Linked DNA regions of Homo sapiens. The protein of the gene in region 6 interacts with the protein of the main gene of each other region in a biochemical or structural test. Each region holds a gene or a part of one and is shown on either strand. Other genes may lie near its edges. The genes, in order: CDKN1A, POLA1, EP300, HDAC1, MACROD1, PARP1 and UBE2I.

Region 1 (3,060 bases), on a different chromosome or scaffold from region 6:
AAGGTAGATTTATTTAGTCCTTATAGCAATGTTATAACATAAGACATTCTTGTCACCCTGCCCGCCTTTCTTTTTGAGACAGGTGTCTTAACTCTGTTGGCCAGACTGGAGTGCAGTGATACGATCATGGCTCACTGCAGCTTCAAACTCCTGGGCTCAAGCGATCTTCCTACCTCAGCCTCCTGGGTAGCTGGGAAGCTGGGACTATAGTTGTACACCACTACGCCCGGTTAATTTTTTGAGTTTTTGTAGAGACAAGGTCTCACCATGTTGCCCGGGCTGGTCTTGAACTCCTGAGCTCAAGCAGTCCTCCTGCCTCAGCCTCCCAAAGTGTTGTGATTACAGGCGTGAGCCACCATGCCCAGCCCCTTGCCATCCTTTTAGGGCAAGGAAACCAGGCTCAGAGAGGTAGAGTGATTTATCTAAGGTCTCAAAGTGAATTTGCCGTTGGGTCAAGACTAATTATAATAACAACAACTACTGACGTTTATATGGGCCCGGCATTGTGCTGAACACTTTCATGGATTTTGTAACAGAATCCCTAGATCAGCACTGTCCAGTAACTCTGCAGGGATGGGAGTGTCCGGTACAGGGGCCACGAGCCACATACGGCTGTTGTGCATTTGACACACAGCTCATGTGACTGAGGAACTGAATTGTTCATTTTATTTGATTGTAGTCTGTTTAAACAAGCACACAGAGCTAGTAGTGGTTCCTCTGCTGGGCAGCTTGACTTAGAGCAGACCCATGGGTGCGGGTGCGGTGATGGATAAAATCACATCTGTGAAGCATGGTGGGACACTCCATAATACCCCTCAAGAGACAGAGTGGACGTTCCCCGAGTTCTTCCTGTTCTCAGCAGTCGGCCCCATTGGCCCCAGGGAAGGGTGTCCTGGCCCCCCACTGTCTTCCTCAGTTGGGCAGCTCCGCCGCGTCCTCTTCTTCTTGGCCTGGCTGACTTCTGCTGTCTCTCCTCAGATTTCTACCACTCCAAACGCCGGCTGATCTTCTCCAAGAGGAAGCCCTAATCCGCCCACAGGAAGCCTGCAGTCCTGGAAGCGCGAGGGCCTCAAAGGCCCGCTCTACATCTTCTGCCTTAGTCTCAGTTTGTGTGTCTTAATTATTATTTGTGTTTTAATTTAAACACCTCCTCATGTACATACCCTGGCCGCCCCCTGCCCCCCAGCCTCTGGCATTAGAATTATTTAAACAAAAACTAGGCGGTTGAATGAGAGGTTCCTAAGAGTGCTGGGCATTTTTATTTTATGAAATACTATTTAAAGCCTCCTCATCCCGTGTTCTCCTTTTCCTCTCTCCCGGAGGTTGGGTGGGCCGGCTTCATGCCAGCTACTTCCTCCTCCCCACTTGTCCGCTGGGTGGTACCCTCTGGAGGGGTGTGGCTCCTTCCCATCGCTGTCACAGGCGGTTATGAAATTCACCCCCTTTCCTGGACACTCAGACCTGAATTCTTTTTCATTTGAGAAGTAAACAGATGGCACTTTGAAGGGGCCTCACCGAGTGGGGGCATCATCAAAAACTTTGGAGTCCCCTCACCTCCTCTAAGGTTGGGCAGGGTGACCCTGAAGTGAGCACAGCCTAGGGCTGAGCTGGGGACCTGGTACCCTCCTGGCTCTTGATACCCCCCTCTGTCTTGTGAAGGCAGGGGGAAGGTGGGGTCCTGGAGCAGACCACCCCGCCTGCCCTCATGGCCCCTCTGACCTGCACTGGGGAGCCCGTCTCAGTGTTGAGCCTTTTCCCTCTTTGGCTCCCCTGTACCTTTTGAGGAGCCCCAGCTACCCTTTTTCTCCAGCTGGGCTCTGCAATTCCCCTCTGCTGCTGTCCCTCCCCCTTGTCCTTTCCCTTCAGTACCCTCTCAGCTCCAGGTGGCTCTGAGGTGCCTGTCCCACCCCCACCCCCAGCTCAATGGACTGGAAGGGGAAGGGACACACAAGAAGAAGGGCACCCTAGTTCTACCTCAGGCAGCTCAAGCAGCGACCGCCCCCTCCTCTAGCTGTGGGGGTGAGGGTCCCATGTGGTGGCACAGGCCCCCTTGAGTGGGGTTATCTCTGTGTTAGGGGTATATGATGGGGGAGTAGATCTTTCTAGGAGGGAGACACTGGCCCCTCAAATCGTCCAGCGACCTTCCTCATCCACCCCATCCCTCCCCAGTTCATTGCACTTTGATTAGCAGCGGAACAAGGAGTCAGACATTTTAAGATGGTGGCAGTAGAGGCTATGGACAGGGCATGCCACGTGGGCTCATATGGGGCTGGGAGTAGTTGTCTTTCCTGGCACTAACGTTGAGCCCCTGGAGGCACTGAAGTGCTTAGTGTACTTGGAGTATTGGGGTCTGACCCCAAACACCTTCCAGCTCCTGTAACATACTGGCCTGGACTGTTTTCTCTCGGCTCCCCATGTGTCCTGGTTCCCGTTTCTCCACCTAGACTGTAAACCTCTCGAGGGCAGGGACCACACCCTGTACTGTTCTGTGTCTTTCACAGCTCCTCCCACAATGCTGAATATACAGCAGGTGCTCAATAAATGATTCTTAGTGACTTTACTTGTAATATTACTATTGTGGTTATTATACCTTATAAGAACAAATAAATGGGCTTTTGGGAAGGATTTCATAATTAAATAATTTTAAAAATTAAGCATTTAAATTTAGAGAATGCAGAAAACTTAGCAAACAGAAAGACTGCTGCAAAAAACAACAGCAAAACAAAAACTACTGTCACACCTCTGCAAAGATCACCAATGTCAATATTTTGGTTTGTTGTGTAATCTTTTTGTAAAGAATATATTATAGCTTAACATCATTATTCATCAGATAAATGCAAATTAAGATACCACAATAAGATACCACCATACACTTACCAGAATGATTAAAAAAGACTGACAGTGCCAAGCATTGGCAAGGTTATGGAGCAACTGGATCTCTTATTTAAAAAAACTGTTTGGGCCGGGCGCAGTGGCTCACACCTAGAATCCCAGTGCTTCGGGAGGCTGAGGCAGGAGATCACTTGAGGCCAAGGGTTCAAGACCAGCCTGGCCAACATG
Region 2 (3,500 bases), on a different chromosome or scaffold from region 6:
TCTCCCAAAGTGCTGGGATTACAGGTGTGAGCCACCGCGCTGGCATGTATATGTATTTTTATTTCCTTTTCTTTCTTTTTTCTGAGACAGATTCTTGCTCTGTCGTCCAGGATGGAGTGCAGTGGTGCGATTTGGGCTCACTGCAACCTCCGCCTCCTGGGCTCAAGCTATCCTCCCACCTCAGTGTCCCGAGTAGCCAGGACTACAGGCACATCCTGCCACGCTCGGCTAATTTTTTGTGTTTTTAGTAGAGACAGAGTTTCGCCATGTTGCCCAGGCTGGTCTCAAACTCCTGGGCTCAAGCAGTCCGCCCGTTTTGCCCTGGGAAAGTGTTGGGATTACAGGCATGAGCCACGGTGCCCGGCCCCTTTTCTTTCTTAAACAAAAGATAATGTTATAGAGGTTTTGTACTTTGCTTTTTTCTTGTAGCAAGATGTCTTGAAAATTACCCCATATTAGAACATAGAGAGCTTGTTTTTAATTATTTATTTCTATGTAGCTGCATAGTATTCCATGATAGGGATTGCACAATGTTTATTCAAATGGTTTCCTTGGAAGGACATTTAGATTATTTTGAGTAATTTGCTATTATAATGCCACATCCAATAACTCTGTGCATATGGCGTTTTCCTCAGAGAAAATTCCCAGAAGTGGGATTGCTGGCTCAAAGAGTAGCTACGCATAAATTTTTTTTTTTTTGAGATGGAGTTTTGCTCGTTGCCTAAGCTGGAGTACAATGGCGCGATCTCGGCTCATTGCAACCTCTGCCTCCTGAGTTCAAGTGATTCTTCCGCCTCAGCCTCCTGAGTAGCTGGGATTACAGGTGCCTGCCACCACACCCAGCTAATTTTTGTATTTTTAGTAGAGACGGGGTTTCACCATGTTGGCCAGGCTGGTCTCGAGCTCCTGTCCTGAGATGATCCACCCGCCTTGGCCTCCCAAAGTGCTGGGATTACAGGCGTGAGCCACCACGCCCAGCCCACTACACATAAAATTTTATTAGCTATTGCCTATTCTTTATAGGAGCTGTCCCATTTTACACTCTCATGAACAATGTATGAATGTCTGTTTCTCTACAGCCTTACTAACAGTGTTTTCAAGCTTTTGAATTTTTGCCACTCTGATATGTGAGAAGTGGCATTTCAGTGTGGTTTTCATTTGCATTTTTTTTTGTTTGTTTGTTTTTGAGACTGAGTCTCACTTTGTCACCCAGGCAGGAGTGCAGTGGTGCGGTCTCAGGTCATTGCAACTTCCGCCTCCTGGTTTCAAGCGATTCTCCTGCCTCAGCCTCCCAAGTAGCTGGGACTACAGGTGTGTGCCACCATGCCCGGCTAATTATTGTATTTTTAGTAGAGATGGGGTTTCACTATGTTGGCCAGGCTGGTCTCGAACTCCTGACCTCGTATTCCGCCCGCCTCGTGGCCTCCCAAAGTGTTGGGATTACAGATGTGAGCCACCATGCCCAGCCTCATATGCATTTCTTTTACATATGAAATTGATCATCTTTTCATAAAACGTAACTATTTATATATGTTTGTGTTTACTGCCTGCTTTCCTTTTGGGCTTTTTATCTTTTAAGTTTTTAAAAGTTCTTTGTCAGGGAAATTGGTCCTTTATCTGTGATACATATTGCACAAATTTTTTCTTCATTTTTCTTTTAACTTGGTTTTCTTTTTTCTTGGTTTTTCTTTTTACACCAATTCTGGTGTAATTGAATTTATCATTTTTTTTCTTGCAAGTGGATTCTGAGTCATAGAAAGATTTTCACTGGACCCAAATTGCAAAGGAATTGCTTTTTAAAAGGTTTTTGTAAAGTTTCATTTTTAAAAATTTTGATTTGTGATCCATTTGGTGTTTATACTGGTTTACTTCTTTACAAATGGCTAGCCAACACTACTTAATAAAGTCCATCTTTTCCTTAGTGATATGGGATGCCACCTTCATTATATATTAAATTTCCATAAGTAATTGGGTCTTATTCTGGACTTTATGTTCTGTTTCATTTGGTCTATTTGTATGCCACTACCACATTCTTATTTTTTTTATTTTTTTATTTTGAGACAGAGTCTTGCTCTGTTGCCCAGGCTGGAGCGCTGGAGTGCAATGGCATGATCTCGGCTCACTGCAACCTCTGCCTCCTGGGTTCAAGCGATTCTCCTGCCCCAGCCTCCCGAGTAGCTGGGATTACAGGCATGCACCACCATGCCTGGCTAATTTTTGTATTTTTAGTAGAGACAGGGTTTCAGCATGTTGGTCAGGCTGGTCTCGAACTCCTGACCTCGTGATCTGCCTGCCTCGGCCTCCCAAAGTGCTGGGATTACAGGCGTGAGCCACCGCGCCTGGCCTACCACATTCTTTCAATTATTCATTGTTGGCTTTTTTTTGAGATCAGGACTATTCTGGGATGAATCAGAAAGCGAGAGTAAAATTGACGGTATTAGAAAAGTTTGTAGGTGATTTACACATAGCCGTAAGAGAAAACATATGGCAAAAGTTTTGTTTGTTTTTTTTCTTTTTCAAGACAGAGTCTTGCTCTGTTGCCAGGCTGGAGTGCAGTGGCGCGATCCCAGCTCACTGCAATCTCGCCTCCGGGGTTCAAGCGATTTCCCTGCCTCAGCCTCTCGAGTAGCTGGGATTACAGGCATGTGGCAACCACGCCTGGCTAATTTTTTGTATTTTAGTAGAGATGGGGTTTCACCATGTTGGCCAGGATGGTATCGATTTCCTGATCTCGTGATCCGCCCGCCTCGGTCTTTTAAAGTGTTGGGATTACAGGCGTGAGCCACCGCACCCGGCCAGCAAAAGTTGTTCTTTAATGAGCAGATGTCTCTGTGCTGTTTAGTGTTGATATGACATACTGTGTATCTGGTTGCTGTTTCTCATAAAATGGAAATTAGGATGCCACCATATCATAATTGGTAATCCCATTTCTTCACAGTTAAATTTTCCTATCAGATTCAGTATACAGCTAAAGAGATGATCTCATGAAGGCTACTAGGCTAATTTCTTGGTTCAAGATTAGCTTTATCTTTTTATTTCTGTGGGGAAAACAAACCCAAATTCTCACTTTTTTAAAAAGCTTTTTATTCACATTAACAATAGCAGTTAAGCAGTCACACTTATGCTGATATTTAACTGGTATTTCATTAGTTTCTATAAAAACATTTGGCCCATGTTTTCTTGAATTAAACTCATTTAAAATATTTTTTCCTACATACCTTGTATAGAATCTCATAGTTTTGTTTTGTTTTGTTTTTTGAGATGGAGTCTTGCTCTGTCGCCCAGGCTGGAGTGCAGTGGCGTGATCTTGGCTCACTGCAAGCTCCACCTTCTGGGTTCACACCATTCTCCTGCCTCAGCCTCTGGAGTAGCTGGGACTGCAGGCGCCCACCACCATGCCCGGCTAATTTTTTGTATTTTAGTAGGGACAGGGTTTCACTGTGTTAGCCAGGATGGTCTCGATCTCCTGATCTCGTGATCCTCCCGCCTTGGCCTCCCAA
Region 3 (3,500 bases), on a different chromosome or scaffold from region 6:
GAAATAGTTGCTGGTTCTTTGATGTACAATCAGCCAACCAGTATTTACAAGTCTTAATTCTCCTGTTCTTAAGCATAATTAAGGGAGGTGAAATGGGCAGAGCAAATGAAAGCACCATGAATAAATATAAGCCAAGAAATAGGTGGCTAATTCTGCTATCCTGTTGCTTACCTTACATTCTGATTGTATCGTTGGCAGACTCTGCGTGTGTCTCACCTACTTCCCTTTTTTTTCTGCCCAGCTTTCCCAGCCAGCTGTAAGCATTGAAGGACAGGTATCAAATCCTCCATCTACTAGTAGCACAGAAGTGAATTCTCAGGCCATTGCTGAGAAGCAGCCTTCCCAGGAAGTGAAGATGGAGGCCAAAATGGAAGTGGATCAACCAGAACCAGCAGATACTCAGCCGGAGGATATTTCAGAGGTGAGAGTAGGGCAATTACTGTTTGATTTGGTTAGGACCTCAGTATAGGAACCCAAGTTTTAAAAAATATTGCAGAAAAATATTTTGATAATTAGATCTCATGGCATAGATTTTGCATGAGAAAGGGTGTTCAGATTACTGATTCCCAACTAGATATCTTTGGAATACTAAAAATTCTTACGTTTTCTTTTAGTCTAAAGTGGAAGACTGTAAAATGGAATCTACCGAAACAGAAGAGAGAAGCACTGAGTTAAAAACTGAAATAAAAGAGGAGGAAGACCAGCCAAGTACTTCAGCTACCCAGTCATCTCCGGCTCCAGGACAGTCAAAGAAAAAGAGTGAGTCTCTGAAGCCATTCGTTCTGGAGGTAGCTGAAGAAACCAAAGACCCAGGGCAGAATTGCGGTCATGCCTCTTGGGCCTCAGAAGTTGCCATTATTGTGATTTCATTAACCTGGAAGCCCTGGGCCTGGTCTCTTCATTGTTACTAATAATTTTTCTTTCTTTTTTTTTTTTTTAATATTCACTTGCAGCAACCAATGAGTTAAGTCATTCCCCTCATTTCTTCAGGGTTCCCTGTGTTAGTACACCCTAAAAATTGTCTCATTTTTCAGGAGAGAGAAATGTTTGTAAATAGCCTTGACTAAAATGCAGGAAAGAATAGCAATAGTAATAGCATTTGTCATTCACCTGCTGTGTGCTAAGTATCCACATTGTCTCATTTAATAATTTCTTTCTTTCTTTTTCTTTTCTTTTTTGTTTGGAATCGGATTCTCACTTTTGTTGTTCAGGCTGGAGTGCAGTGGCGGGATCTGAGCTCACTGCAACCTCCACCTCCCAGGTTCAAGCGATTCTCCTGCCTCAGCCTCCCGAGTATCTGGGACTGCATGCGCATGCCACCATGCCCGTCTAATTTTTGTATTTTTAGTAGAGACAGGATTTCACCGTGTTGGCCAGGATGGTCTCGATCTCTTGACCTGGTGATCCACCCGCTTCGAGCTCCCAAAGTGCTGGGATTACAGGCATGAGCTACCACACCCGGCCTCATTTAATAATTTCACAACAGCTCTGAGGTTATTGGCCTGAAGCTTAGCAAAGTTAAGTAACTTTCCACAGGTTACTCAGCTGACCCTACTGCCTGGGCCAGGAAGCAGACCCAGGCAGTCTGAGGCAGAGTGCTCAAATCCAGCCATTCCAACAAGTGTTAATTGACTATTTTAGGACTAGAACTTTTGTGGCTCTAGTGATCTGCAAAAGGCACCAGGTAGGACATACCTGAGGAGTGAGTCTGCTGGCTCTTACAGATGATATATATTGAAAAGTGTTCCATTAATACAATGTGTTGTAAAATGTTGGGATTAAAAAATTATTTTCATTTTAAAAATAAGACTTGTATATATTGAGGTGTTTTAATATGGGCTGTAACAAACCCAGTCTTACTATTGGCAATCTCTCTTTAAAATGTGTGTTCCCTCATGCCTGTAATCCCACCGCTTTGGGAGGCCGAGCGGGCAGATCACTTGAGGTCAGGAGTTCAAGACCAGCCTGGCCAATATGGTGAAACTCTGTCTCTACTAAAAGTACAAAAGTTAGCCGGGTGTGGTGGCTCTCACCCGTAGTCCCATCTACTTGGGAGGCTGAGGCAGAAGAATCACTTGAACCCGGGAGATGGAAGGAGGTTGCAGTGAGCCAAGATGGCGCCACTGCACTCCAGCCTGAGTGACAGAGAGTAATTGTCTCAAACAAATAAATAAAATAAAATGTCTAATTTCACAAGTTTATTCAAATAGTCCTTATTTTTAGCACAGCTAAATATGAGTGACAAGCATCTTCGTAGTCTGGTTTCCCCCCACTCCATGGCAACCCCCCAGAGGTGAAAATTATCTGAAGTAACAAATATACTCTACCGATGATGAAATTTTTTTTGCCAATTAAGAAAAAATAAGGCCCTTGCTGAAATTGAAAGCTTTTTAAATCACTGGCTTCTCAAAGAACTGTTTGATTCCATTTGGGACACACCAACAAATTTTTCCGGACTTTTTGGGAAATATCATTGAGAACACATTTGAACTTAATTTGATCAACTAAGTCTATTATTTTAGCAATACCATTTTTGTTCTCTCTTCTTTTAAACTTAAACCTAACATTTGTCATTAAAATAGTACATGTCTCTTTTTCTTTGGCTCTAAAATACCAAGCATTTGAACGAAGGAGTCTTCTCTTCTGTGCCCCTGACTCCTTGTAGTATAAGACAATACCTGATCTAGTCTAGTTTCTGACTTGTTAAATACTGATGTCATGAAGAAAGACTTTTCTGTTCTTGCTTGACTGCATCTCCCTCTTAACACGAGTATCTTGTGCACTCTTTTTTTTTTTTTTTTTTTTTTTGAGATGGGGCCTCATTCTGTTGCCTAGGCTGGAGTGCAGTGGCGCCATCTCGGCTCACTGCAACATCTGCCTCCCGAGTTCAAGCAGTTCTCTTGCCTCAAGCCTCCTGAGTAGCTGAGACTAGCATGCCACCATGTCCGACTAATTTTTTATATTTTTAGTAGAGACGAGGTTTCACCATGTTGGCCAGGCTGAAACTTCTGACCTCAAAGTGATCTGCCCACCTCAGCCTCCACCGTGCCTGGTCCCATGGACTCTTATTTGGCAAAGTCTCTTCATAAATTTTTAGAAGCCTTTGGATTCTGCTTCTAATTGACCGAGTCTGTCTTCACTGACTTTGTGACTGAAAAGTTAAGCTGAGGGTGAAGAGTGTTTTAAGGTGATAAGACACAATGTTTTTTAGGAGCTGTCTGAAACAAAGCGGGGCTTAGAATCTAGAATCAGTGATTGAGCCTGTAGTGATATTTCCATGGGGACAGAGTGGTTAATTTTGTTATTGATTCTTGAGATGCTTTTAGAGCTTCAGGCTGAATGATTTTTTAAAGTTCTTCTGCTTAATTGGTAACTAATTTCAAATGCACTTTTTTTTTTTAAGTTTTCAAACCAGAAGAACTACGACAGGCACTGATGCCAACTTTGGAGGCACTTTACCGTCAGGATCCAGAATCCCTTCCCTTTCGTCAACCTGTGGA
Region 4 (3,500 bases), about 190 Mb from region 6:
GCCAGAGTTTTACAAAAGAGCAGTTACCCTTACTGTTACTCTGATATTTTTTTCTATGCTATTTCATTAAAAAAATATATATATATATACACACACACACTAATCATGATGTACTAAATCAATTTTAAGGCCTGCTAATGGGTTACTACCCTCAGTTTGGAAAATCGTTTTTTACGAGTAGACAGTATCATGTATTCCCTGCTGAAGTAGGGTGGGAGGGAGGGGACTGGTCTATGAATTGCACAATACAGCTGTTGAATAGGCAGGTCTTAACCTTTCACTAGGTTCCCTGGGCTTCTTGGAGGAAGGGGAGAGTGGCTTAGTAACAGGCTTATGTTCTCTTTTCTCATGCCCAGCAAGTGCTGTGAAACTTAATAAGCAGCAGACGGACATCGCTGTGAATTGGGCTGGGGGCCTGCACCATGCAAAGAAGTCCGAGGCATCTGGCTTCTGTTACGTCAATGATATCGTCTTGGCCATCCTGGAACTGCTAAAGTATGCCTGCCTGGCCTTGTCTCTTGGAAGAGCACCTTAGGCCAGGTTCCCATTTCCCTCTTCCCCTGGGCTTGCCTCCCTAGTTTGCTTTTCCTACCGATGTGCTGGCTAGGATGTGCTCGGTGAGTGTCTCTGGCCATCATCTCCTTGATGGGGTCTTGGTTTGATCTGAGCCACGGCATGATCAGGGGCAGATGCTGCTCAGATCCTGCCTCCAGAGTGTCCCTGTGTGGCTGGAGTTGACCCTGGCTGTAGAGTAGGAAGATCGGACTTGGTCGGCTTGGTCAGGCCTCTGGAGACACCCGGCCGCTCTTCCACCTTCCTTCAGCCAGTTTCCACGTCTCTGGTGCTTAGAGATACCTGAGGGAGGCAGCCAGCCCGGTAAGCTGGGAGCTAGCGCCCTTGGCACGTCCCATCCCCAAAGAGCCCCCAGACCCCTGACCCCCTTCTGATCCTAGGTATCACCAGAGGGTGCTGTACATTGACATTGATATTCACCATGGTGACGGCGTGGAAGAGGCCTTCTACACCACGGACCGGGTCATGACTGTGTCCTTTCATAAGTATGGAGAGTACTTCCCAGGAACTGGGGACCTACGGGTGAGAACGCCCTTTAGGAGCCAACCGGCTTACCCTCAGCTGGCAGCTCTACTTCTCTCTCCTATCTCATGCCACTAAAAATTGCTTCTTGCCTCTTCTGCCAATCAGAATACCACATCCCAATCTGAAGCACTTGCCCTGATCTCTTTCCCTTCCTTATTCTGGAGGAAGGGAATGATGGGACATAAAGGGCCAGAGAAAGAAGAGGGGTCTCCTGACTCACTGTACTTTCCTCCTGGCCACAGCTGGGTTGCATCACACTATTCTTATGTCTCATAAGCCTTGAGTTTGGGGGTAGGAATTGGGACTCTGAAGGACATCTCAAGTGTTCTTCATGTTTTTGGGTCACTTTCCCCTTTAGCCTTTTGACTGAAAACTATGGACTGTCTCTCCAGAAAAGTACATGAGATTTTACATCTGATATAGAATAGTTAATAGACAAGTCCCCTTACTGAAGCCCATCCATGAACCTTAGGATAAGAATCCTTGGAAGCTACTTCGTTGAACTGTTCCATCTGCTTCTATTAGCATGAATGTGGTGAAATCAGCTGCTTTGCCATGCCTGGTAGCCCTTGGGTAAAAAAGTGGCACTAATTCAGTTGTTTGCCATGGCAAGCGTTAGAATAAATGAGCATTCACTTTTTTTTTTTTTTTGAGACAGTCTCTCTCTGTCACCCAGCCTGGAGTGCAGTGGCGTGATCTCGGTTCACTGCAGCCTCCGCCTCCCGCCTCCAGGCGATCTTGTGCCTCAGCCTCCGAATAGCCGGGATTTAGCTGGGATTATAAGTGCGTGCAACTATGCCCGGCTAATTTTTGTATTTTTAAAAGAGATGGGGTTTTGCCATGTTGGCCAGGCTGGTCTCGAACTCCTGACCTCAAGATTCACCCGCCTCAGCCTCCCAAAGTGCTGGACTTAAATAGGCGCACTCACTATTTTGAGGTTACTGGGAAGGACTTTCTTACCTCTCTCCTTCCCTCCACAACACCCTAGAGAGGGAGCATGGGGGAAGAGGAGTGAGCATTAGAGCTCTCTGGAGTGGAAAGGGTTGTCAAGGGTGGCTGTCACTTCTGTGACTCACCTGCCAGCCAGCTCTAACCCAATCCCAAGGTAGAAATCTTGTGCTATAGGGTAGGCTATTCAATCTCTGGTCCCATCAAGAGCTCTCAGTCTGGGGGTAGGCTTAATGCTATGTCCAGAGATGATTTGCCAGTGAAGCTAGATTTGCCAGTGAAGAGAATGGTACTAACAAGGTACCTCTGTTCTGTCCTGGCCCACATCATGGGCCTAGCTTGTCTCTCTTGAACCTCTTCCTTTATCCCTCCAGCCCCTATCCTTGACCTTCCTTCAAGCTTCATCCTTCAGTTTTACTTTAATGGCCTTTTTAATTAGGATATCGGGGCTGGCAAAGGCAAGTATTATGCTGTTAACTACCCGCTCCGAGACGGGATTGATGACGAGTCCTATGAGGCCATTTTCAAGCCGGTAAGTGGCTTTATCCACCCCTTGGGCTACAAACAGGGGATTGGTTGGCGGTGGAGGGGAGCAAAGCACCCCCACCATACCTCAGGAATCTCTCCTTACTAAAGCTGGTGGGGAGATAGAAGTGTTTGAACCCTGGATTGCTGTGTGGTCAGTTAGGGGAACAAACACCCATATTTATTGGTTCCTTCTATGGGTCAGGTCTTCTGCTGGATACAAAAATATCTAAGACATGATCTTTGCCCTCACGGACTATGGTGGGGAAGGCAGGCACATACCCAGTAGTCTATGATTAGTACTGTTTTTGTATCTCCATTTCTTTGGGCTGCTGGGAGATTATTGTGTTCTTTTGGTAGTGGTATGTCTCCTTGGTTTTTTGTGTTCCTCATTGCCTTACATTGATGTCTGCACATTAGAAGAAGTAGGGACTTACTCCAGTCTTTGCAGACTGGCTTTGTCTGGGAAAGCCCTTTGCCAGTCAGCCCATCCAGAGATTCTGGAAAGGCTGTGTGGCATGTTCCATGGGTAGGCTGGCCTAGTGCCTGTGTTTTTGAGGGATGATCAGAGGAATGAGAGACAAACTACTGCCTGGGCTGGCAGGAGGGTAGCCAGGGATGATTTCACAGAGGTGCTGATGTTTAAGCTGGACTTTGGAAAATGAGGAGGTGCCCATGTGAAGAAGGAGGTGATGGCAGTAAGGGTGGCATTTAGTAGAAGGAATGGCACTAGCAGAAGTGCAGAGGTGCCAGTGTGGCAGCATGTAGGCCAGTGTGGTGTATGGGAGGAGTGCTGAAGGAGGCGGTGGGAAGTGTATGCTGGGCTCAGTATTTCAAAGGGAGCCTTGAATGCCATGCCAAGGAGTTAAATCTTCACTTATAAACAGTAAGAAACTGCTTAACCTAATAAGGTCAGGTAGTCATTCAGC
Region 5 (3,500 bases), on a different chromosome or scaffold from region 6:
TTTTTGAGATGGAGTTTTGCTCTTGTTGCCCAGGCTGGAGTGCAATGGTGTGATCTCAGCTCACCGCAACCTCCGCCTCCCAGGTTCAAGCGATTCTCCTGCCTCAGCCTCCCGAGTAGCTGGGATTACAGGCATGTACCACCACACCCGGCTAATTTTGTATTTTTAGTAGAGATGGGGTTTCACCATGTTGGCCAGGCTGATCTCAAACTCCTGATGTCAGGTGATCCACCTGTCTCGGCCTCCCAAAATGCTGGGATTACAGGTGTGAGCCACCATGCCCGGCCGCTCAGCTGATTTTTTGTATTTTTTGGTAGAGATGGGGTTGCTCCATATTGTCCAGGCTGGTCTCGAACTCCTGGGCTCAGGTGATTGGCTTGCCTTGGTCTCCCCAAGTGCTGGGGACCCAAATAATTAGAAAAGTTCCTCCGGCTGCTGTGTCCCCAAGTTGGAAAAAAAAGTTCTCCACAATTTTGTCCTGTTTGCTTTGTTCTCTTTGGGCATTATTTAGCCGCCAGGAAGGAGTGAGTGTGTCTGGCGTGTAGACCGCACTTTGCAGCACACAGCCACCTTCTCCTTTGACCCTCCCAGCAAGCCTGGGTGTTAGCAAGGGAAGGCCTGCCTTGTCCCTATTCCAGAGATGGGAAAACCCAAGGCTTCAAACTGAGCATGGTGTTGGGAGGTCACGAACCCAAACCTGGCGGGACCTATAACAGAAGAAAAGGCGCAGCCTGGGTCTAGGCCGGCTGCCACCAGCATCTGTCCGTCCTCAGACAGGGAGGCAGACCTGGAGAGACCGACTGGCCTCACTTTCTCCACCCAAATGCTCTCTCTCTTTTTTTTCTTTTTTAATTAGGGGATCATCTCTGGCTCCCTCTTACCTCTGGGCTTTTGCACATACTGTTCCCTCTGCCTAGAAGACTCTGTACTTAGCAAACTCGCCCTCAACCTTTGGTCTTGGCTCATTTATTCCTCAGCGTGCCCCTCAGGCACCCTCAGGTGCCCACACACCGTGCCAGGTGGTGGGAATCTGATGGCAAACACAGCAGATCCCCTATGGAACCTACAGGTCAAGATGGCCAAGATCAAGAAAGGGGGCCGGCGCCGTGGCTCACGCCTGTAATTCCAGCACTTCGGGAGGCTGACATGGGTGGATTGCTTGAGGTCAGGAGTTCAAGTCCAGCCTGGCCAACATGGTGAAACCCCATCTCTATTAAAATACAAAAATTAGTTGGGTGTGCTGGCACACGCGTGTAATCCCAGCTACTAGGGAGGCTGAGGCAGGAGAATTGCTTGAATCCAGGAGTGCAGGTTGCAGTGAGCCAAGATCGTGCCACTGCACTCCAGCCTGGGCGACAGAGTGAGACTCCGTCTCAAAAAAAAATAAAAGAATAAGTGTAAACAAAAGCAAACTATCCCATATCCTGCAGAGCACAGCAGGTACAAAGGGCCTGGGGCAGGAAGCAGCCTGGCTGTTTGGGGAACTGGTGTAGTGGGGGAGGCAGCATTGGGAGTGAGGTGGGAGAGAGGCCAGAGGACCGGCGTTTGAATGCAGTTTTGAACAGAGGAGGGATGGCACCTGATTTATGTTCCCAGGATCCATGGCTGCCGGTCAAGGAACAGATGGGGATGAGATGCACACGGAGATCAGCTGGGAGTTGGGAGCGTCTGTGGGATCTAGGGAGCCATGAGGAAGGCTCAGTCCTGGAGGGTGAGAGGAAGGCTTGGTTTCTAGGGTGTCACGGGGATCAATCCAAAAGAGGATGGAAAGGGAGGGACCCCTGGTGCAGGGTCTCGAGTAAAAAAGAGGGAAGAATGGAGCAACAAAAAAATGACGTTTTGGGGGAAAGAGTCAAACGTTCTGTTTTGCATGCCTGGGCTTTGGGGAATGAGAGCAGGCAGGCACTGTGGGGGTCAGAGGCTCAGAAGAGAGTGGAGGGACAGCCCCGGAGGTTGCTTGCTTAAAGAGCGTTTTGAATCTGTGCAACTGATTAGAAGACCTAGGGAGGAAAGCAGCAAGGACACTTCCTGTCCACAGGGAAGGCAGGAGGGGCCGCTGCATGGGGTGTGGTGACCTTGACCTTGTTGGAAGGAGGGACCAGACTGGGTGGACTGAAGGGAGCATGGGAGGGAAGAAGTGGAGACAGCAGAGGAGGGGGCAGCTGCAGGGGCGTGGAATGCGGGCGTTGAGGGAGGGGACGGGATTATTTGAGGGCAGGCAGGACAGCCTGGTGGAGGGGGACCTGCAGCAGTGAGTCCTCTGGGAGGTGGGCTTGGCAGGTGGCAGCGCTGGTACTGAATGCAGGACCTACTCGTGCCCAAACATGTTTATGGAAGAGGGGGCAGAAGTGGCTGCCAGGAAAGGTGGCTCTGGCTTGAGCAGCAGTGGGGGCTGACCAGGGGTGGGCCTAGCCTTTTGTGATGACCCCACCTTTGCATCCAGCAGGGACTCTGGACTGGGCCCCTTGCATGAGTTCTGTCATCTAATGCTCTCAGCATCCTTGGGTTGTTATCACCCCTGCCAGCAGTGGTTAGATGAGGAGATGGAGGCCTGGATGATGAAGTGACTCTGGCCGGGAAAACACCCTGCTGTGTGAGGGTGGCCTCCCAACCTCCCTGAACATTTGTGGAGGGACCTACCTGTCCCCCTCACTGCCATGTGCATAGAAGCTTCCAGGCTGCAGTCCTTCCTTTCTCACCACCTCCTCTAATTGCTCTCCCGCCTCTACATATTTTTTGATGCTTTTTGAGTTTCTCAATTGTAGCCTTTGCTGTTTGCCGTGGGGGCTGCCCCATCCCGGGAGCCTGTGGTCCAGGGTGCCAGGCTGGGCTGAGCGCCTGGGTGTGCAGGCGGCCTCGGGCCAGCAGGGGGAGCCCGTGAGCTGCTAGCCTGGCCTGGCGCGGTCGGGGCGGGCCCTTCTGAGACGGGTTCCAGGTTTCTGTGCCTGGTGCCACCCCCAAGGGAAGGCGGAGCCCATGGGACAGTGCTCAGGCAAGGGGAGCCGGCCAGGGTGGACCCCGAGTCTGTGAGCGGGTGGGGGGTGCCTGGCTCCTCACTCAAGTCCCTGCTGTGTGAGGGTGGCCTCCCAACCTCCCTGAGCCCCGGTTTCCTCATCTGTAAAACGAGAACGATTCCAACCCCATTGGTCATGCTGGGAGCCCTCAGCCGCTGCCGGGGGGGATGTTGGGGACAGGTGCCAGGTCCACTTGGTCCTGCAGCTCCTGGAGGAGGACAGCTGTCCCGCTGCCTGCATGCAGTGACAGTGAGGGCAGAACTGACTGGCGGTGGGACTGATGGATAATGTCGCTGGCTGAGTGCTGCCAACCGGCTTGGCCTTAGTGTGTGGGAGGAAGCTCGGAGCTGTTCTGCAGGGGACGTCTTCACCCCCGTTCTAATCAGGGAGAAACGGGGGACCCAGAGAGATGTGGACGCTGCTGGAAAGTGGCAGAGCTGAATTCATCACAACCCAGGTCTGCGATGCCTGAGCCAGTCCCTCAGC
Region 6 (3,500 bases):
ATGTGCATAGATATCTGCCAAAACAGAAGTTCAAGGTTCAAGTATGTTTGGAAAAGGTAGGGTAAAACAAAGCTAAACAGGTTTCTGTGTGGGTTTATTATGCTGATTACCACTGTAGGTCTTCAGGAACCAGAGAAATAGAATACAGGATTTCCCATACATATTTGACATCAGGGTGTTTTTTCTTTGGAGTGTTTGTTAACATCGTGCTGTAGAATGGTTTGGAGAAGGCTGCCCTGGCTCATCATACCTTAGAAAAGGGGGAATGTTGCTGATAAAAACACTCTTGGGAGCATTAGACTTGGAAGCAAAGGAGAGCTGTGAATGCTGAGGGTTTGGAAGTACACACTAAATATAACTGTAGTAATTTGAAGTTTCAGTTTTGTTTTAAACTTGTATTTTGGTTTTTTTTCCTTTCAATTTGAACAGAGGAGGTGGAAAAGATGAATAAGAAGATGGAGGAAGTAAAGGAAGCCAACATCCGAGTTGTGTCTGAGGACTTCCTCCAGGACGTCTCCGCCTCCACCAAGAGCCTTCAGGAGTTGTTCTTAGCGCACATCTTGTCCCCTTGGGGGGCAGAGGTGAAGGCAGAGCCTGTTGAAGTTGTGGCCCCAAGAGGGAAGTCAGGGGCTGCGCTCTCCAAAAAAAGCAAGGGCCAGGTCAAGGAGGAAGGTGAGGGCCCCAAGCTGCCCCCTCCAGGGCCAAAAGCCAGGGACATTGGTGGCCAGGTTGTTGTCCACGGAACCTCTCCCTTTGTGTCCCTGACATGGCCTGTTGAGTGCTGCAGAGCAGGACACAGAATGGCAGGCGCTTTGGGGTGGCGGGAGTAGTGTGTATATAGATGCCGAGTTGACAGATGATGGGAATGAGAACAACTCATTTGCCTTCTACCTTCCCCTTACTTTTTAGTTACATTTAACTTCATGTTTACATTTTTCTGTTCTCCTCCAAGGTATCAACAAATCTGAAAAGAGAATGAAATTAACTCTTAAAGGAGGAGCAGCTGTGGATCCTGATTCTGGTAAGCAAACAGGACTGCCAGCAAAGTGGGCTGTGCCGCCCCCCAACCCCCAGCTGACTAGGAGCACACATCCAAATGCCCGCAGCATACCTGGGGCAGTGTGGTCGTGCCTTTGTCCTCACTCAGGCCTCCTTCACCAGCTCCCCCAGTCCTGAGAACACACATTTGTGGGGAGCCTCCCGAGGGTGGTGGTAGTGTATCCAAGAGGCGTGAACCTCAGGCCTGCAGATCCCTTCTCCGTGAGAGTGCTAGCACCTCAAGGGGAGAGAAAACTGTAGGTGCTTTTCCTCTGGGACAGGACTGGAACACTCTGCGCATGTCCTGGAGAAAGGTGGGAAGGTCTTCAGTGCCACCCTTGGCCTGGTGGACATCGTTAAAGGAACCAACTCCTACTACAAGCTGCAGCTTCTGGAGGACGACAAGGAAAACAGGTGAGTTCTGCAGGTGTAGCCTGGTTGTGCAGAGACATGGGCCCGTCCTGCATTGGTTAGTGCTGTGCCATCAGCCTTGTGAAACCCGTTAGGCCCAGTGCCTGGGGAATGAAATCTAATCACAGAGATCAAAAACAAATTATAAGGCCTTTGCTTAAAGGGGAGAAAGAAGCCACTTACTAACCAGTAGCGTTGCTGTCCTTGTACAGTTGTCCCAAGGTATGGTTTCACATATTCTTCTGCTGGCTTTTCTTTTTGTTTGGTGTTTTGTTTTTTGTTGTTGTTTTGCAACTATTTGTTTTGTTTTTTGAAATAGTCTCGCTCTGTTACCCAGGCTGGAGTGCAGTGGCGTAATCACAGCTCAGCGGAGCCTTGACCTCCCAGGCTCAAGCAATCCTCCCACCTCAGCCTCCTGAGTAACTGGGACTATAGGTGCGCACCACCATGCCTTATTTTTTATGGAGACGGGCCTCGCTGTGTTGCCCAGACTGGTCTCAAACTCCTGGACTCAAGTGATCCTCCCGCCTCAGCCTCTCAAAGTGCTGGGATTACAGGCATGAGCCTCTGCACCCAGCCCCAGCTGGCTTTTCTTTCAGCTACTTGAATCAAGATTTTCTGATTTTACATATGTTTTAAAACTTTGAAGCAAATAAAGGTTGGCAAGCGTTGAACTTACTCTTTAATGTTCAAACTCCCTAGTAACTAAAGAGGTTGGATTTGCCTTTTTTTTTTTTTAACATGGTGAGACAGGCAAGGTTGGAGTGTGGATGGTGGGGTACAGCAGCTGGGAGGTGGTGAGAGGTTGGGCTGGCTTTTGTCCTTATGTTTCTAGGCAGAGTGGTCCTTATCTAGTGAGTTCATTGCCCCTCAGTACAGCCACCACAAAATAGCATTTATGTGTCAGTGTAAAGGCATGTGGAAGGAACTCTTACTAAATTCTAACGTTGATTGTGGATGTGGACATTTTTCTGGTGGCTTAGATTTCCTGGTGTTAAGTGAAAGGGTGGTGTAGGCTGTTAGGGTCAGAAAAAATTTTCAACGTAGATCAAGGTAGTGCTTCTCAAAAATTTTCACAGGAAAAACCAAGCAGAGAATGAATTTTTATACCCCTGTTCAGTAGCCCAGAGAATGGCCAGGGAGTCCCAAATTTTCTTTGAAATCTGTAGTTCTATCTTTAAAATGTACACAAATCTTGTATGTGGGTTTATGATATATATATATTTATTATGAAATGACAATTAAGTGTTGCATTACCTCTGCTTTGAGTTAATCAAAAATTAGCTCATCCAAAGCTGAGCAGCACAGCAGCTGGGTGTGTGTGATGTGTACCCTCAATTGAGATGGAATTTGAACATGACAGCCTGCATCTCTAGGTCACCGGACCTGAGGAGCCATTGCCACTGCCCCCCTCATTTCATCATGTCTTGGCCTTGGATCTGAGTTGAAAGTTTCATTATTTTTAGGGTACAGCTGTAAGGGTTGACTCCTTGAACACATGACTTCCAGATAGTACTTTGTATTTCTTTGGGGAGAGGACTAGAATCATTTTTATGCAAAGGTCTCCAGACTCCAGGATTCAGTCCTCAGGCTTGGCTGCCAGAACCAAGTTTAAACTATTCTTTGGCATTTTTTGTAGTCAATATGATTTGAAAGTTTAATGAAAAGTAAAATAAAGACCCTTTATTGTTATAGCAGTTGTGTTTGTTCTGTGTTAATCACCATCCTTTTGGGGTGTGTAAAATTCTTCCCCACGTGAATGTAATGGCAGGAAAGGGGAGCTCCTGAAATGGGACAGCTGACCCACACATGTGTATCTGACACCCTCCTTCCCACTGCAGGTATTGGATATTCAGGTCCTGGGGCCGTGTGGGTACGGTGATCGGTAGCAACAAACTGGAACAGATGCCGTCCAAGGAGGATGCCATTGAGCACTTCATGAAATTATATGAAGAAAAAACCGGGAACGCTTGGCACTCCAAAAATTTCACGAAGTATCCCAAAAAGTTCTACCCCCTGGAGATTGACTATGGCCAGGTAACCACATAATG
Region 7 (3,500 bases), on a different chromosome or scaffold from region 6:
AATTAGCCGGGCGTGGTGGCGCACACCTGTAACCCCAGCTACTCGGGAGGCTGAGGCAGGAGAATGGCTTGAACCTGGGAGGCGGAGCTTACAGTGAGCCGAGATCACGCCACTGCACTCCAGCCTGGGCAACAGAGCCAGACTCTGTCTCAAAAAAACAAAACAAAAGGCAAATGTTTTCCTGCCTAGCCCTTAGATGGTCTGCCATCCCCAGCATGGTGTGGGCGTGAGCTCTGTCTGGCCTGCACCCCATTTGCCGACCATCTCCAGAGCTGGGCTGTGGCTCCCATCTGCGGCGTGGGCTGGGCAGGGTTGCAGTCCCCCGCCCCGTGTGACTCTCCCCAGCGTCTCCTGGGCTTGGTGCCTGCTGGGCTGCACTGTACACTTGCGTGCACGTAAACAAACGTTCTTTCTCCTACACACATCCGCTTGAAAAGCACCCTTTGTGAAGCATGTGTGCGGGTTTCAGATCGTTTTTCCTGGGTTTCCTGGAGGCCTTGGACCGTGTTCCTGCCCTGGCAGGTGCCTTTTCTCGGGGCCTCTGCTTGGTCAAGGAAGAGCTGGGACGTGTAGCCACCGCCTCTGGTTCCTTCCACGCCCACCCAGCTGAGCTGCTCTGCCCTGGGGCCGGCTGGTGGCCCAAGGAGGGCGCTGGGGTCTGGGCTGCGGTCCAGGCCCTTGGCGTGGGTGGGGGTGGCACCGGCGCTGCTGCCGTCCTGGGCTGTTCCACCATGCAGAGTGAGGCTCAGTGTCTCAGACCAGGTCCAATCCTGGCGAGACTGGCAGGACTGCGACCCCAGGAGCCACCTCCATAAATGTCATGGTGTTCCCCCATCCTCAGGGTCACACTGCACCCTGTGACCCATCAGCCCCTAGGTGCAGCCTCGGCCGCCCTCCCGCCCACCTGTTTTGCCCGGGCAGTGTGTGCCATGCCACTCTCCTGGGCAGCTGCTTGCAGGCTGAGCCTCACTCTACCCAGCTCCAGACCTGTTCGCTGATGCCCCTGCACTGCCCAGCTCGGGCACAACGCCTTCTCAACCAGGCCTGCCTTCCCACACCTTTGCCCCTGCGGCTGAGAGCCTCATGGAAAAACCCTCCAGAAATTGGTGTCTATTTTTGGGAATTAACAAAAACAGTGGCAAGCAGTCAGTGTTTTCAGTTTATTAGGACTGTCCCCAGACCTACAGAAAAGAGAAGCTGCTGATTACTAGTTAGGACCAGACTTGGCATCGGCAACGATGTTGCAGGCCCTGGCGTGGGCCCTCTGGGCCTGAGCCCTCCTCGCAGCCCTGCGGGACCCCTCTGTCCCCCTTGAACACCACGTTCACCCAGCGTGGGTTCCTCTCCTCCCTGCCCTTCTGCCCCCGTCAGACCACGGGACAGTCTCAGCCACGTCAGAGCCAGCATGGGCTCCCCACCACGCAGGCCTCCCTGCTTCTCCGGGCTTCTGCTTCTGTTACTATGACGAGCTCCACACTGCCCTCCCCCAGGAGGTCCCATCCTGCAGCCTGGTCTGCCCAGCTGGCTCCGGGGCGAGCGTGAGGGCCAGGCAGCTCAGCCCTCTAACACGTCTCTTCTCTTTTGACCTCCTCAGCCAAAACAGAGTGGAGTACGAGAAAAGGGTCCGAGCACAAGCCAAGAAGTTTGCGCCCTCATAAGCAGCGACCTTGTGGCATCGTCAAAAGGAAGGGATTGGTTTGGCAAGAACTTGTTTACAACATTTTTGCAAATCTAAAGTTGCTCCATACAATGACTAGTCACCTGGGGGGGTTGGGCGGGCGCCATCTTCCATTGCCGCCGCGGGTGTGCGGTCTCGATTCGCTGAATTGCCCGTTTCCATACAGGGTCTCTTCCTTCGGTCTTTTGTATTTTTGATTGTTATGTAAAACTCGCTTTTATTTTAATATTGATGTCAGTATTTCAACTGCTGTAAAATTATAAACTTTTATACTTGGGTAAGTCCCCCAGGGGCGAGTTCCTCGCTCTGGGATGCAGGCATGCTTCTCACCGTGCAGAGCTGCACTTGGCCTCAGCTGGCTGTATGGAAATGCACCCTCCCTCCTGCCGCTCCTCTCTAGAACCTTCTAGAACCTGGGCTGTGCTGCTTTTGAGCCTCAGACCCCAGGTCAGCATCTCGGTTCTGCGCCACTTCCTTTGTGTTTATATGGCGTTTTGTCTGTGTTGCTGTTTAGAGTAAATAAACTGTTTATATAAAGGTTTTGGTTGCATTATTATCATTGAAAGTGAGAGGAGGCGGCCTCCCAGTGCCCGGCCCTCCCCACCCACCTGCAGCCCCACCGCGGGCCAGGACCAGGCTCTCCATCTGCTTCGGATGCACGCAGGCTGTGAGGCTCTGTCTTGCCCTGGATCTTTGTAAACAGGGCTGTGTACAAAGTGCTGCTGAGGTTTCTGTGCTCCCCGCATCTGCGGGCTGTAGAGCGCTGGGCAGCTAAGATCTGCATAGGTCGGGATTGGCATCGAGACCCTGGCAACTGCACCGGTGCCAGCTGTCTTGGGGGCCACAAGGCCAGGTCCAGACCAGGGCTGGGGGCTGCCTGAGGACTCCTATCCGGGCAGCCTGCTGGCGGGGGTTCCCCTCTTCAGTGGCCAGGTCACAGGGATGGAGCTGCGCTGTGCATAGGGTGCCACCTCAGGTGTCTGTCCCTTGTGTCCTCAGGAGGCAGCCTTGCTACCACCCGTGGCAAACGCCAGGTGCTTTTTCTGGGAGAGCCCACAGCCGTGGCCCTCCAGGGCTTCCCCGACCCTTAGCGCCAGGTAGAGGGCCCTGGGCAGCCTGTGTCTGGAATTCTTCGTCCTGAGGCCACCTGAGTGTGGTCTGTCCTGGGGAGGCTGTGCGCCTCAGCAGCCGTCCTGACGCTGAGCCCTCTGCAAAGGTTGGGCCGGCCAGGCCTCTTGGGGCTGCCTGAGCCACTGCAGGAAGTGGCCTGGCTGGGAAGTTGGGTGCCGGTCACCTCCCAGCAGGAAGGCACAGTGGACAGAGATGGGAAGCCCTGGGGGACACAGCCCGGTGCTCCCAGCCCTCCAACCTCTGGCTCCCAACCCAGTCTCCCCATCCTAGCGAGCTTGGCCCTCCTCAGTTTCGTTTCAAGCCTTGGGGCTGGAGCTGGCCCTGCTGCCCTGGCACCCCCCGGTGGCTGGAGCTGGGTCCCCGTGGCCCAAGTGCAGGGTCCCAAGAGGGCAGGGCGGGGCTCCCCAAAGGAGCAAAGAATGCAGGGAGGGCGGTCCAGGGCCCTGGGAAGGGGAGCTCGGCACCCTCCAGGTCCGTGTGGGACTCCAGCCGCTGTTGGCTGGGAATCGAAGTTAGAGGTGACTTCCAAAGGCCCCCCGAGCCGGCAGTGCCCCCCACCACCCCTCCAGCGACTCTGCGGTGCCAGTGCCTTGTTGGCTTTTCCGGCTACGCACCCTGCAGTCACTGAGCTCTCGGTCTGACGTCTGATGTTTGTGGTTTGTTTATAACACGGGGCCTTACCTGGGGAATT

What was found.
Region 1: the proteins of PARP1 (region 6) and CDKN1A form a complex in vitro, tested with the Homo sapiens proteins (2 studies listed by BioGRID).
Region 2: the proteins of PARP1 (region 6) and POLA1 interact in far-western blotting, tested with the Homo sapiens proteins (one study listed by BioGRID).
Region 3: the proteins of PARP1 (region 6) and EP300 form a complex in vitro, tested with the Homo sapiens proteins (2 studies listed by BioGRID, with this or other methods).
Region 4: the proteins of PARP1 (region 6) and HDAC1 form a complex in vitro, tested with the Homo sapiens proteins (2 studies listed by BioGRID, with this or other methods).
Region 5: the proteins of PARP1 (region 6) and MACROD1 form a complex in vitro, tested with the Homo sapiens proteins (one study listed by BioGRID).
Region 7: of the proteins of PARP1 (region 6) and UBE2I, one has a biochemical effect on the other in vitro, tested with the Homo sapiens proteins (4 studies listed by BioGRID, with this or other methods).

The regions. Positions count from the first base shown.
Region 1 is NC_000006.12:36,684,773-36,687,832, forward strand, and holds the end of CDKN1A (cyclin-dependent kinase inhibitor 1), read left to right. Parts: intron 1-679; coding exon of another isoform or gene 680-738; exon of another isoform or gene 739-978; coding exon 979-1,028; 3' UTR 1,029-2,560; downstream 2,561-3,060. UniProt on the Homo sapiens protein: Plays an important role in controlling cell cycle progression and DNA damage-induced G2 arrest. Involved in p53/TP53 mediated inhibition of cellular proliferation in response to DNA damage.
Region 2 is NC_000023.11:24,710,918-24,714,417, forward strand, and holds part of POLA1 (DNA polymerase alpha catalytic subunit), read left to right. Parts: intron 1-3,500. UniProt on the Homo sapiens protein: Catalytic subunit of the DNA polymerase alpha complex (also known as the alpha DNA polymerase-primase complex) which plays an essential role in the initiation of DNA synthesis.
Region 3 is NC_000022.11:41,151,592-41,155,091, forward strand, and holds part of EP300 (histone acetyltransferase p300), read left to right. Parts: intron 1-241; coding exon 242-421; intron 422-614; coding exon 615-759; intron 760-3,403; coding exon 3,404-3,500. UniProt on the Homo sapiens protein: Functions as a histone acetyltransferase and regulates transcription via chromatin remodeling. Acetylates all four core histones in nucleosomes. Histone acetylation gives an epigenetic tag for transcriptional activation.
Region 4 is NC_000001.11:32,326,583-32,330,082, forward strand, and holds part of HDAC1 (histone deacetylase 1), read left to right. Parts: intron 1-356; coding exon 357-495; intron 496-561; exon of another isoform or gene 562-876; intron 877-953; coding exon 954-1,095; intron 1,096-2,485; coding exon 2,486-2,578; intron 2,579-3,500. UniProt on the Homo sapiens protein: Histone deacetylase that catalyzes the deacetylation of lysine residues on the N-terminal part of the core histones (H2A, H2B, H3 and H4).
Region 5 is NC_000011.10:64,152,614-64,156,113, reverse strand, and holds part of MACROD1 (ADP-ribose glycohydrolase MACROD1), read left to right. Parts: intron 1-3,500. UniProt on the Homo sapiens protein: Removes ADP-ribose from aspartate and glutamate residues in proteins bearing a single ADP-ribose moiety. Inactive towards proteins bearing poly-ADP-ribose.
Region 6 is NC_000001.11:226,377,094-226,380,593, reverse strand, and holds part of PARP1 (poly [ADP-ribose] polymerase 1), read left to right. Parts: intron 1-429; coding exon 430-672; intron 673-952; coding exon 953-1,021; intron 1,022-1,319; coding exon 1,320-1,452; intron 1,453-3,290; coding exon 3,291-3,486; intron 3,487-3,500. UniProt on the Homo sapiens protein: Poly-ADP-ribosyltransferase that mediates poly-ADP-ribosylation of proteins and plays a key role in DNA repair.
Region 7 is NC_000016.10:1,323,136-1,326,635, forward strand, and holds part of UBE2I (SUMO-conjugating enzyme UBC9), read left to right. Parts: exon of another isoform or gene 1-1,594; coding exon 1,595-1,658; 3' UTR 1,659-3,500. UniProt on the Homo sapiens protein: Accepts the ubiquitin-like proteins SUMO1, SUMO2, SUMO3, SUMO4 and SUMO1P1/SUMO5 from the UBLE1A-UBLE1B E1 complex and catalyzes their covalent attachment to other proteins with the help of an E3 ligase such as RANBP2, CBX4 and ZNF451.